Linked DNA regions of Homo sapiens. The protein of the gene in region 1 purifies or fractionates together with the protein of each later gene. This does not show direct contact. Each region holds a gene or a part of one and is shown in the gene's direction. Other genes may lie near its edges.

Region 1 (3,721 bases):
AGGATAATGCTATTTGGTGTTTAATAATGACACACTTTGTAATTACAGAGCTCTTCTCTGCTACAGTAAATTAAACTTACCTCAAAAAGCAGAAATTAATGATTTCAAAATATAAGATTGTGAAATTTCAGCCACAAAAACGAGCACCTCTGACCTCTCTGGGATATGCATTGTGCTTTATGATTAATGTTAAGATGAGTGAGTATTTTAATATCAGTAACTGGAGAAACGTGTTAGGCTGAAGTATTTGTAGTGCTACATTTTATTGTAACAGGATTTTGTAAACTGCCAAAAAATAATTTGGGCACCAAATATAACTTATCTTTATAATGAGCTTTCTGTGGTAACAGTGTATATTTATTATGATGGAATGGGATTTGGCCTGCAACAATGCTTGTAGATGGAAAAGGGTAATGATGACTGTCATTTTAATGAATGCTTTGTTCAATTTCTACAGAATTCAGAAACAAATCCTATCACTATACCGACTCACTACTACAGAGGGAAAATGAAAGGAATCTATTTTCAAGGCAGAAAGCACCTTTGGCAAGTTTCAATCACAGCTCGGCACTGTATTCTAACCTGTCAGGGCACCGTGGATCTCAGACGGGCACATCTATTGGAGGTGATGCCAGAAGAGGCTTCTTGGGCTCGGGATATTCTTCCTCGGCCACTACCCAGCAGGAAAACTCATACGGAAAAGCCGTCAGCAGTCAAACCAACGTCAGAACTTTCTCTCCAACCTATGGCCTTTTAAGAAATACTGAGGCTCAAGTGAAAACATTCCCTGACAGACCAAAAGCCGGAGATACAAGGGAGGTCCCCGTTTACATAGGTGAAGATTCCACAATTGCCCGCGAGTCGTACCGGGATCGCCGAGACAAGGTGGCAGCAGGTGCTTCGGAAAGCACACGGTCAAATGAGAGGACCGTCATTCTGGGAAAGAAAACAGAAGTGAAAGCCACGAGGGAGCAAGAAAGAAACAGACCAGAAACCATCCGAACAAAGCCAGAAGAGAAAATGTTCGATTCTAAAGAGAAGGCTTCCGAGGAGAGAAACCTAAGATGGGAAGAATTGACAAAGTTAGATAAGGAAGCGAGACAGAGAGAAAGCCAGCAGATGAAGGAGAAGGCTAAGGAGAAGGACTCACCGAAGGAGAAGAGCGTGCGAGAGAGAGAGGTGCCGATTAGTCTAGAAGTATCCCAGGACAGAAGAGCAGAGGTGTCCCCGAAAGGTTTGCAGACGCCTGTGAAGGATGCTGGTGGTGGGACCGGTAGAGAGGCAGAAGCAAGAGAGCTACGGTTCAGGTTGGGCACCAGTGATGCCACTGGTTCTCTGCAAGGCGATTCCATGACAGAAACCGTAGCAGAAAACATCGTTACCAGTATCCTGAAGCAGTTCACTCAGTCTCCAGAGACAGAAGCATCTGCTGATTCTTTTCCAGACACAAAAGTCACTTACGTGGACAGGAAAGAGCTTCCTGGGGAAAGGAAAACAAAGACTGAAATAGTTGTGGAGTCTAAACTGACTGAGGATGTTGATGTTTCCGATGAAGCTGGCCTGGACTACCTTTTAAGCAAGGATATTAAGGAAGTGGGGCTGAAAGGCAAGTCAGCCGAGCAGATGATAGGAGACATCATCAACCTCGGCCTGAAAGGGAGGGAGGGGAGAGCAAAGGTCGTCAACGTGGAGATCGTGGAGGAGCCCGTGAGTTATGTCAGCGGGGAGAAGCCGGAGGAGTTTTCCGTCCCATTCAAAGTGGAGGAGGTCGAAGATGTGTCGCCAGGCCCCTGGGGGTTGGTTAAGGAGGAGGAAGGTTATGGAGAAAGCGATGTCACATTCTCAGTTAATCAGCATCGAAGGACCAAGCAGCCTCAGGAGAACACGACTCACGTGGAAGAAGTGACAGAGGCAGGTGATTCAGAGGGCGAGCAGAGTTATTTTGTGTCCACTCCAGATGAACACCCCGGGGGGCACGACAGAGATGACGGCTCGGTGTACGGGCAGATCCACATCGAGGAGGAATCCACCATCAGGTACTCTTGGCAGGATGAAATCGTGCAGGGGACTCGAAGGAGGACACAGAAGGACGGTGCAGTGGGCGAGAAGGTTGTGAAGCCCTTGGATGTCCCAGCGCCCTCTCTGGAGGGGGACCTGGGTTCCACTCACTGGAAAGAACAAGCTAGAAGCGGTGAATTTCATGCCGAACCCACAGTCATTGAAAAAGAAATTAAAATACCCCACGAATTCCACACCTCCATGAAGGGCATCTCCTCCAAGGAGCCCCGGCAGCAGCTGGTGGAGGTCATCGGGCAGCTGGAGGAAACCCTTCCCGAGCGCATGAGGGAGGAGCTGTCCGCCCTCACCAGAGAGGGGCAGGGTGGGCCGGGGAGCGTTTCCGTGGATGTCAAGAAGGTCCAGGGTGCTGGTGGCAGTTCCGTGACCCTGGTTGCTGAAGTCAACGTCTCACAAACTGTGGATGCCGATCGGTTAGACCTGGAGGAGCTGAGCAAAGATGAGGCCAGTGAGATGGAGAAGGCTGTGGAGTCGGTGGTTCGGGAGAGCCTGAGCAGGCAACGCAGCCCAGCGCCTGGCAGCCCAGATGAGGAAGGTGGAGCGGAGGCCCCGGCTGCTGGCATTCGCTTTAGGCGTTGGGCCACCCGGGAGCTGTACATCCCTTCAGGCGAGAGCGAGGTTGCTGGTGGGGCCTCTCACAGCTCGGGACAGCGCACTCCCCAGGGCCCAGTGTCGGCCACTGTGGAGGTCAGCAGCCCCACAGGCTTTGCCCAGTCACAGGTGCTGGAGGATGTGAGCCAGGCTGCAAGGCACATAAAACTCGGCCCCTCTGAAGTCTGGAGGACTGAGCGAATGTCATATGAAGGACCCACTGCAGAAGTGGTGGAGGTAAGTGCGGGAGGTGACCTAAGTCAGGCAGCGAGCCCGACCGGAGCCAGCCGGTCTGTGAGGCATGTCACGCTGGGTCCCGGTCAAAGTCCACTGTCCAGAGAAGTCATCTTCCTAGGCCCTGCCCCTGCCTGTCCAGAGGCATGGGGCTCGCCAGAACCTGGCCCAGCAGAGTCTTCTGCAGATATGGACGGATCAGGGAGGCACAGCACATTTGGCTGCAGACAATTTCATGCTGAAAAGGAGATTATTTTTCAGGGCCCCATTTCTGCTGCAGGGAAGGTTGGTGATTATTTTGCAACAGAAGAGTCAGTGGGTACCCAGACTTCTGTCAGGCAACTCCAGTTAGGCCCTAAAGAAGGGTTCAGTGGGCAAATCCAGTTCACAGCTCCACTTTCAGACAAGGTGGAGTTGGGTGTCATAGGAGATTCTGTACACATGGAAGGGTTGCCAGGGAGCAGCACATCCATCAGGCACATCAGCATTGGGCCTCAGAGGCATCAGACCACCCAGCAGATAGTTTACCATGGGCTGGTTCCCCAACTGGGGGAATCTGGTGACTCAGAGAGCACTGTGCACGGAGAGGGCTCAGCAGATGTGCACCAGGCCACTCACAGTCATACCTCGGGTAGACAAACCGTTATGACTGAAAAGAGCACCTTCCAAAGTGTCGTTTCTGAATCTCCCCAGGAGGATAGTGCAGAGGACACATCAGGGGCAGAAATGACATCGGGTGTTAGCAGATCCTTTAGGCACATTCGACTAGGTCCTACAGAAACGGAAACCTCTGAACACATTGCCATCCGTGGACCCGTGT
Region 2 (4,000 bases), on another chromosome or scaffold:
ACTTTAAAATACACTCTTGGCCCGGCGCAGTGGTTCACGCCTGTAATCTCAGCACTTTGGGAGGCCAAGGCGGGCAGATCACCTGAGGGCGGGAGTTCGAGACCAGCCTGACCAACATGGAGAAACCCCATCTCTACTAAAAATACAAAATTAGTTGGGTGTGGTGACTCGCGCCTGTAGTCCCAGCTACTCGGGAGGCTGAGGCAGGAGAATCGCTTGAACCCGGGAGGCGGAGGTTGTGGTGAGCCGAGATCGTGCCATTGCACTCCAGCCTGGGCAACAAGAGCGAAACTCCGTCTCAAAACAAAACAAAACAACAACAACAAAAACCAAACAAAACACTCTTAGCTGCTGATATTGAGTATCTATCTTCCCTCACACATGTGAACTATGAGATGGCAGAGTTTTGGTCTGTTCTGTCCTCTGCTGCAGCCCAGCCCCTCATCAGTGCCTGATACAGAACAGGCCTTCAATAGGTATGTGCCCCGCTCCTCCCTGCAGCGTCCAGGCTCCAGGCAGCATTCAGGGCTCAAGTTCGGAAGAGTGAAGGCCGTTGAGGGTCCCCTATTAGGCCCCAAGCCCCCTAGAGAGCTCCAACGACATGGCCTGGAGTTTGCTTTGGCGACAGCCGGTCCTGCTGGAACTAGGACATGAGGGTTAGCGATCCCGCCCCATGGGGTCACAGGGCAGAAGCTGCGGGCAGGGGTGGGCATCAGTGGGGCGGTGGTGCAGGGGGTGTCGCTCCCAAGTCAGCTCACACGCACGTCTTCAACACACCCACCACACAGGCACCCGCACGCACCAAGGGACGCCGAGGCTCGGGAGAGGAGGAAAGGCCAAGGCGATGGGGAGATGGGGAGAGAGGCAGGGAGCAACATCCCGGGCTCCGAGCGCGCCAGCTGGGAGGGCTGGGGAGGAGGGCGCACCGGAGGGCTCCCGGCACGCGCGGGGCCGCGGGCAGCCCCCAGAAGAGGGAGCCAGGCAAGACTGCTGGGGCAGGGGTCGGCTGAAGCAGCGGGGAGCCGGACCCCACCCGCCACCCGCCACCCGCCACCCCCGGCGCCTGCCAAACTGGTTGCTGCCTCCCCGGCAGCCGCGGCGCGTCCACCTGCGCAGCCACCGCGCCGCCCTGCCCGCGCTACCATTGGCTCGCTAAAAATGCCTCTCTAATCTGCTCTGCTCGGTGCACGCCTCCTCCTCATCCTTCCCCCCTCTCCGCCTCAGCTCTGACCTTCCTCCTTCCCGCAGCCCCGGCGAGATCCCAGAGCGACGCGGTGGCGGCGGCAGCGCCAGCCCCCTCCTCCCCCGGGAAGTCGGCCGGGCTTGAGGCCGGGCCCCAGACGTCCCGCTTCGCCCCGAGTCGCCGCCGATGGTCCCCGGAGCTCCTGCCCCCAGGTAGGAGGTCTGGCCCTTGAATAGAGGGCGGGGGGGTTGTGTGTGCGGGTGTCCAGTTAGGGAGTGCGTGTTGGAAGTGGGCGCCGGGACTGACATCTCCCTGGGCCAGAGCCCGGGCAGGGTTGGGCAGTTGCCTGGAGAGAAGCGGGTGCGCGTTCGGGGATGCCTTCAGGGGACGGAGTTCGCGGGCATCACCCAGGCAGTGCCAGGATGCCACTGCGCTGGGTCCCTTGGGGGAGCGAGCTGGCATCGGAGGCCCTTACCCCAGGAAAAGCGCCGGAAATAGGTTCCTTGGGAAGCTGGGGCCTGGGCCCGGGCGGTCCGGGTCTCTGGACTGCTACCAGAAGGGGTGGGTGGGCTGGTGCCAGCTTGGTGCATAGGCTATTTATGGATCAGAGTGGGCTGGGGAGAAACACAGCAGCTGATGCCTGTCTGGCTTATGGTTAAAGGTATTTCCTTCTGTCCCCTACCCCTTCCCCCACAGCTGGGATGGGAGCGGGGAGGGGGGAGGAGGCAAGAAGGAGGCGATAATGCTAAAAGGCCCCGCAGATACAGAAGCCATGGGCTGCTGGGCACTGCCCTCCCCTGCAAGCCCCAGGCCACTTGCTGCCTGTTGGAGCTGCCTCTGCCCCTTATTTTCACCTTACAAGAGGCTATGAAAAGGTTAAAGGGTCATCAGGGTGTAGGAGACATGGTGGCAAACCCGGGAGCTTGGCCAGACCCAGCTTCAAGCCCCAGCTGCCCCTACCCACAACAGCCCAGGTCTGCACCACATAGGCAGTGACACATATGGCCGCTTATTTCTAGGCACAACCATAAATAACCCACATTGCCCCAGCCCCTGGCACAGCTGGGGTGCAAACAGGACTGTCTGTCAGTGATTTTGCTTCCATCCTCCATCCTGGCCTTTCTATCACAAGTCCAAATCATCACCCTCCAGCAGCTTCCCTGATACCCCAGGTGAGATCCTTGCCCCCTGCCCTATGTTCTTGGACTGCCTTGTGGCTGGGTTATTTGTCTTGTTCATCTCCTTCTAGACCAGAAGTACCTTCAGGCTGGGAATCTGATTCATCTCTGTCATTGCCCCTGCACCAAAGCAGGGTTTGGCACCAAGAAAATATCTTGTGGAATGCATGACTTATTGAATGAGTGAATGTAAACTCTGGGAAATAGCTGGCAACCTGAGGGAGGGGGTCGAGCCCCTTCTTGGGCTTTCTCTCTATTCCCCAGGACCAAAGAGCCACTCCACTCAAACCAGGTGGTTCTCTTTAGTAGGCCCTTCCTTTTTTTTTTTTTTTTTTTTTTGAGAGAGAGTTTCGCTCTTGTTGCCCAGGCTGGAGTGCAATGGCACGATCTCAGCTCACCGCAACCTCTGCCTCCCGGGTTCAAGCGATTCTCCTGCCTCAGCCTCCTGAGTAGCTGGAATTACAGGCATGCACCACCACACCCGGCTAATTTTATATTTTTAGTAGAGACGGGGTTTCTCCATGTTGGTCAGGCTGGTCTCGAACTCCTGACCTCAGGTGATCTGCCCACCTTGGCCTCTCAAAGTGCTAGGATTACAGGCCTGAGCCATCATGCCCGGCTAGGCCCTTCCTAAGCCTGGAGTTGATGGGCAGCTATGCCTTTTGGAGATAGTGTTGCAACCTGCTGGCTCCAGAGGGTCTTATGGGCCCCTGGTTTGAGTGTCCAGGCCTGGTCCTGGCTTGAGGGAAGGCCTGATGTGAAGGTCTGGCTCTCCTCAGGCCGCTGGGTTGGCACTTTCTTCCCGGGGTGCCAACTTTAGACCAGAGTCTCTGCCTCTGTCCCAGCCCTTGGGAAAATCCAGGTCAACATCAGGGAAGCTGGGAAGGCCCAAGCCAGGCCTTCCTCAGCCTCTAAGGTCTTCATAGCAAGCTCTCAGGGGTCTCATGACCCTAGTGTGTGGAGGAGCAAACCCACTTCAGAGGAAGAGGCTGCCAACAAGGGTTCTGGCTTAGCCACAGGCCTGTGTCTATGAAGGACATCAAGATTTCCAGGCTTAGGAGGGGCCTAAAGAGAACTGTCTGGTTTGGGTGGCTCTTTGGTCCTGGGGAATAGAGGGAAAGCCCAAGAAGGGACTCAACCCCCTCCCTCAGGTTGCCAGCTATTTTCCAGAGTTGACATTCAGTCATTCAATCATTCATTCATTCCACAATGGCTCGCATTGCTATTTGACAGCCATGCAGTCTCCCTAACGTGGCTCTGCCACCATTCCCACACCCAGGCTGACTCTCCCTTCTTGCCCTCCCTCTGCCCCCTGGCTGCCCTGAGCTACTTTCAGTTCCTCAAGCAAGTGGGGCTTCTGTCACCTGCAGGCCTTTGCACAGGCTGTTCCTGTCTCCTCCTCTCCCTCTTCCTTCCCACCCAAATCTCTCACCCTCGGGAGTCCACTGAGACTCCTTTTTCCTCCAGAAGCTTCCCCAGCTTGGGCTGGGAACCCCACCCATGATCCCCTCCCCACAGCCTGGCTGCCTCCCCTGGGAACCCTCCCATCATGCAGTGTCCTCTCCCTGCTGGGCTGTGGGGTCTGTGGGGGCAGAGTCTGTGTGCTGTTTCCGGTGGCCCCATGGCCTGGCACAGAGTA
Region 3 (3,721 bases), on another chromosome or scaffold:
TGGTATATACTGATATTATATACTGGTATATATTATATACCACTAGGTACAGCAGGTTATGGAAAAGTTTCTCATAGTTGAAGGGGGAGCCTTTTAACAAACAGAAAATTTCTCCAGTGGACTTAATTGATACCTAAATTTCTACATTAAAATTTAATCACTTTCATTTATACCTATGTCATATATTACATGTACATACCTTGAATAGGAGGATGCATTTATTCTCATTAGTCATTTACCATGTAGGGCGAATAGGAGGCCCACAGATGCTGATAAGAAAAGGATTTCTTGGAGAAAGACAGAGAGCACTGCAGTGAGCACCTTCCATGACCTCTTTCAAGTGGGGAGAGGGGCCTGACAAAGAGAACACGGTGAGATGCTGAAGGCAAACACTGACCATTCCAAATTTAGAAATTTAGAGGATAGAACAAATTTGGAGGATAGACTCTAGCATCAAGATTTTTGTTTAGCATTAACCAAAAGTTCAAGGACAGACTAGAAGTCTTTGCTCAAGATTTTATATTTTTAGGATGTTCTTAGAAGTTAAATAAAAAGCTCCCCACTTCTTGAATAAGCAGAGTTGATGCTGCATGATTCTTTCTTGAGGGCAGCAAAATCTGCCTCCATGCCTGACCCACTGTAGGCATCCAATAAATGCCTCTGGGACAAAATATGTTTCATTTTATTCACCTTATTTTCACCAGAAGGTAATGAATTATATTTTGAAACAAATTTTAGGAAACTACAAGCTTCTTCTTTGGATAAACGGGCTTTCCACATCTTGGCAGACCACTGCTGAGTACAGTGTCAGCATGACTTCCAGCCGCGTCTCAGCCTCCCTCACCTACTGCGGGACTTGTCCGGGGCTCTGTTGCATACCCCGCCATTGTATACAGACTCAACCAAAAACCGGTATTCTAAAGCTCATCATTTTTGTCATTTAGAGCACTTATTTTCTCATTTCAGAAAGTGGATGTCACCAGCAGGGCTGTGATGGAAATAATGACTAAAACAATTGAATACCTTCAACCCAATCCAGGTAAGGCATCATCTTATATGTTTAAAGGATCCCTCGAGGTAACTTTTAGTTTCTCTTTGATAGACATTTTAAGTTTGGTGTGTTTCTTCTTTTGGTGTTGCTTCCTCGGTCCACTTTTCTGAGAGGTTAGCGACTTCATGGATAGCACATTTTAACTGGGGAGAAGGGCTTTTTAAAGCTCACATTGAAGTAACTGGAAGATCTGTGGTATTTTATCTGACTGTGGTATATTTAACAAATAATGTATGCAAACAGTTCAGGTGACACATAATATCAGAGTAGCTATAAACTGTTATCAGTTTGAACTTTCAAGAGATGGTAAGAAGGAAAATTAGGATAGTTTAAGGTAAGATATAATGATTCCCAGAAGATGTGAAAAAGTAGGGAGGTGAATCGTTTTCATGAAACACAGAGGGTTTCTTCATAGGGCATCACCAAAGTCTTCAGAGCGTTGATCTTGATTCTGATTCTTCTCCAAGCACATCACAGATCAGCATTGGTTCCTGCTAACTTGTTATACTCTAAGAAAAAGAAGTGGTAATAGAGATAACGGAGCTATATGTTGATAAGAGGACCAGGCAGAGTTGGGGCAGTTTCGGTAGGCACTAGGTATAGCAAAGCAAAGCAAAGCAAAGCAGCCTACCTGATAGACCTCCTCATTACCATTCCTGTGTGTCAGTTTCTAACCACAGGGCACGGAAACGGGAAGTGAGGCTGGTTGTATTTAAGTGAGATGTGTGAATATTTGGAATACCCCTTAATCTTGAGGCTAGTTTCTTTGCAAGTTTCAGGTTGGGGTTCCGTGTATTTTATGGTCCTAGAGAGGATGGTGCAGACAACTGCTTCAGCCCCAATGAGTTTGGATACTGAGCAATAGTGGACAAGTGATCAAAAAAAAAAAAAAAAGGGGGCGGGTGTGGGCTGAGAGGAAGCAGGTGTGTGCTGTACTAAGTGCTGGCTCCTTTTCTATGCCCCCTGCTGCTGGCTGCAGCTTCCTTCCATCCTTATTCACCTATGACCAGCCCAGCTGCTATTCTGAGGATGAGCAGACTATGTAGGAATAACTTTCTGGATATTTGTTGCTGTTGTTTTTGTTCATAAAACACATTAGAAATGAGCTTATGTGAGGGAGGAAAATATGGAAGAAAATGTGATAAGCTATAGGAACCAGGAATTTAACTGACAGTGGTCTAGATACATTTTCAAATGCTTAGCAAATTTGTCAAAGCACTGCAAAAATCAGGTTTCTTATTTTTACCCAGAACCTTCTTGGTAACCACTGTTTTTCACAGAGATGCAAAGATCTCTTGGATGCACATTTATTCCTTACTGTTTAAACCACTGTCATAGGTCAAGTTCTGAAAGAGAACTGCTCGCCCTGCTTCCCCGCAAGAAATCATTATATAGGGGCAAGAAGTTTTGGTCTTTATCTTTGCCTAGAACCTTGAAGTACTCCATGATTTCCTGGGATTTTCACGAGTTGTACTTGTAACTCATGGTTGTAGGGCTAAGAGAAAGGCAGTGGGAGGAGGAATATAGTATTTATTGAGCACTGATGCATTTTCAGTGCAGTGCTAGGTATATGAGGCATTGTCTCATCTTTAAAAGTAACCATTTTTCTCCATATAAAGTAAAAACAGTTGAAGAATTTCTAGTATGAAAATAGACTAAAAATTCATTGTAACACAAATTATCAGTGGGAGCTCATCAGTTTTCCTGAGTATAATGGAACTGTGCTCTGTTGTAGGTAGGTGTGGTGGGTTGCATTGTGTGTCTCCCCAAATTCAGGTCCATCCAGAACTAAACTTATAAGGAATGTGACCTTATGTGGAAATAATCCTTGCAGATGTAAGTAGTGATGTAGGATCTTGAGATGAACTCTTCCTAGATTTAGGGTGGCCCCTAGAACCAGTGATGGGTGTCCTTATGAGAAGAGGAGAGGACACAGAGAAACACAGGAAAGAAGGCCACGTGAAGAATGAGAAGAGGTTGAAGTTACACGTCACGAGCAAAGGAATGCCAGGAGCCACCACCACAAGCTGGAAGACATGAGGAAGGATTCTCTCAGAGCCTCCAGAGGGAACCAACTTTGCCGACACCTTGATTTCAGACTTCCGGTATGCTGAACTGTGAGGGAATCAATTCTTTTCTTTGAGGCTGCCCAGTTTGTGGTCATTTGAAATGACAGCTCTAGAAAACTAATCCAGTACGCTAGCCTCATTTTATTCAGGAAAAAACAAGGGTCAGAGAATTTAAGGAACTTTCCCATTCATACACCTAGGAAGGGATGAAGACAAGATTGGAACTCAGGTCTGACTACCTCCTAAGTCTCTGCACTTCACGTTGCACGATCCTGCCTCTGAGAAGGGTAGGCTCCATTTCATTTAGGTGTGAAGGGTCCTTCCCTTTCAGAGAGTACCAGAGAAATTCAGAAAGGAAATTGTGGGATTAAGGCTTATTTTTATTTTAATAAAAAACATCAAAGGAGGAGGTAATTGAGAAGATCTGAATGTTTAGAAATGACATTTTTAATACAATATTGCATGTGCTAATTGGCTGCCAATATAATGGTTTTGTGACTATTTGAGAGTTGAATGGACATCTGCCACTAAGAACAATGAAGGCCATTACAGGCAATTCGAGGTTGGTTTCAGAAAAACAGTTATGTATGGGCAGGCCACA

Evidence for each region.
Region 2: the proteins of SYNM (region 1) and PACSIN1 purify together in Homo sapiens (affinity purification with western blotting, with the first as the bait; one study listed by BioGRID). This does not show direct contact.
Region 3: the proteins of SYNM (region 1) and SH3GL2 purify together in Homo sapiens (affinity purification with western blotting, with the first as the bait; one study listed by BioGRID). This does not show direct contact.

What each region holds. Positions count from the first base shown.
Region 1 is NC_000015.10:99,128,910-99,132,630, forward strand, and holds part of SYNM (synemin), read left to right. Parts: intron 1-457; coding exon 458-3,721. UniProt on the Homo sapiens protein: Type-VI intermediate filament (IF) which plays an important cytoskeletal role within the muscle cell cytoskeleton.
Region 2 is NC_000006.12:34,464,876-34,468,875, forward strand, and holds the start of PACSIN1 (protein kinase C and casein kinase substrate in neurons protein 1), read left to right. Parts: upstream 1-1,200; 5' UTR 1,201-1,395; intron 1,396-4,000. UniProt on the Homo sapiens protein: Plays a role in the reorganization of the microtubule cytoskeleton via its interaction with MAPT; this decreases microtubule stability and inhibits MAPT-induced microtubule polymerization.
Region 3 is NC_000009.12:17,760,471-17,764,191, forward strand, and holds part of SH3GL2 (endophilin-A1), read left to right. Parts: intron 1-966; coding exon 967-1,039; intron 1,040-3,721. UniProt on the Homo sapiens protein: Implicated in synaptic vesicle endocytosis. May recruit other proteins to membranes with high curvature. Required for BDNF-dependent dendrite outgrowth.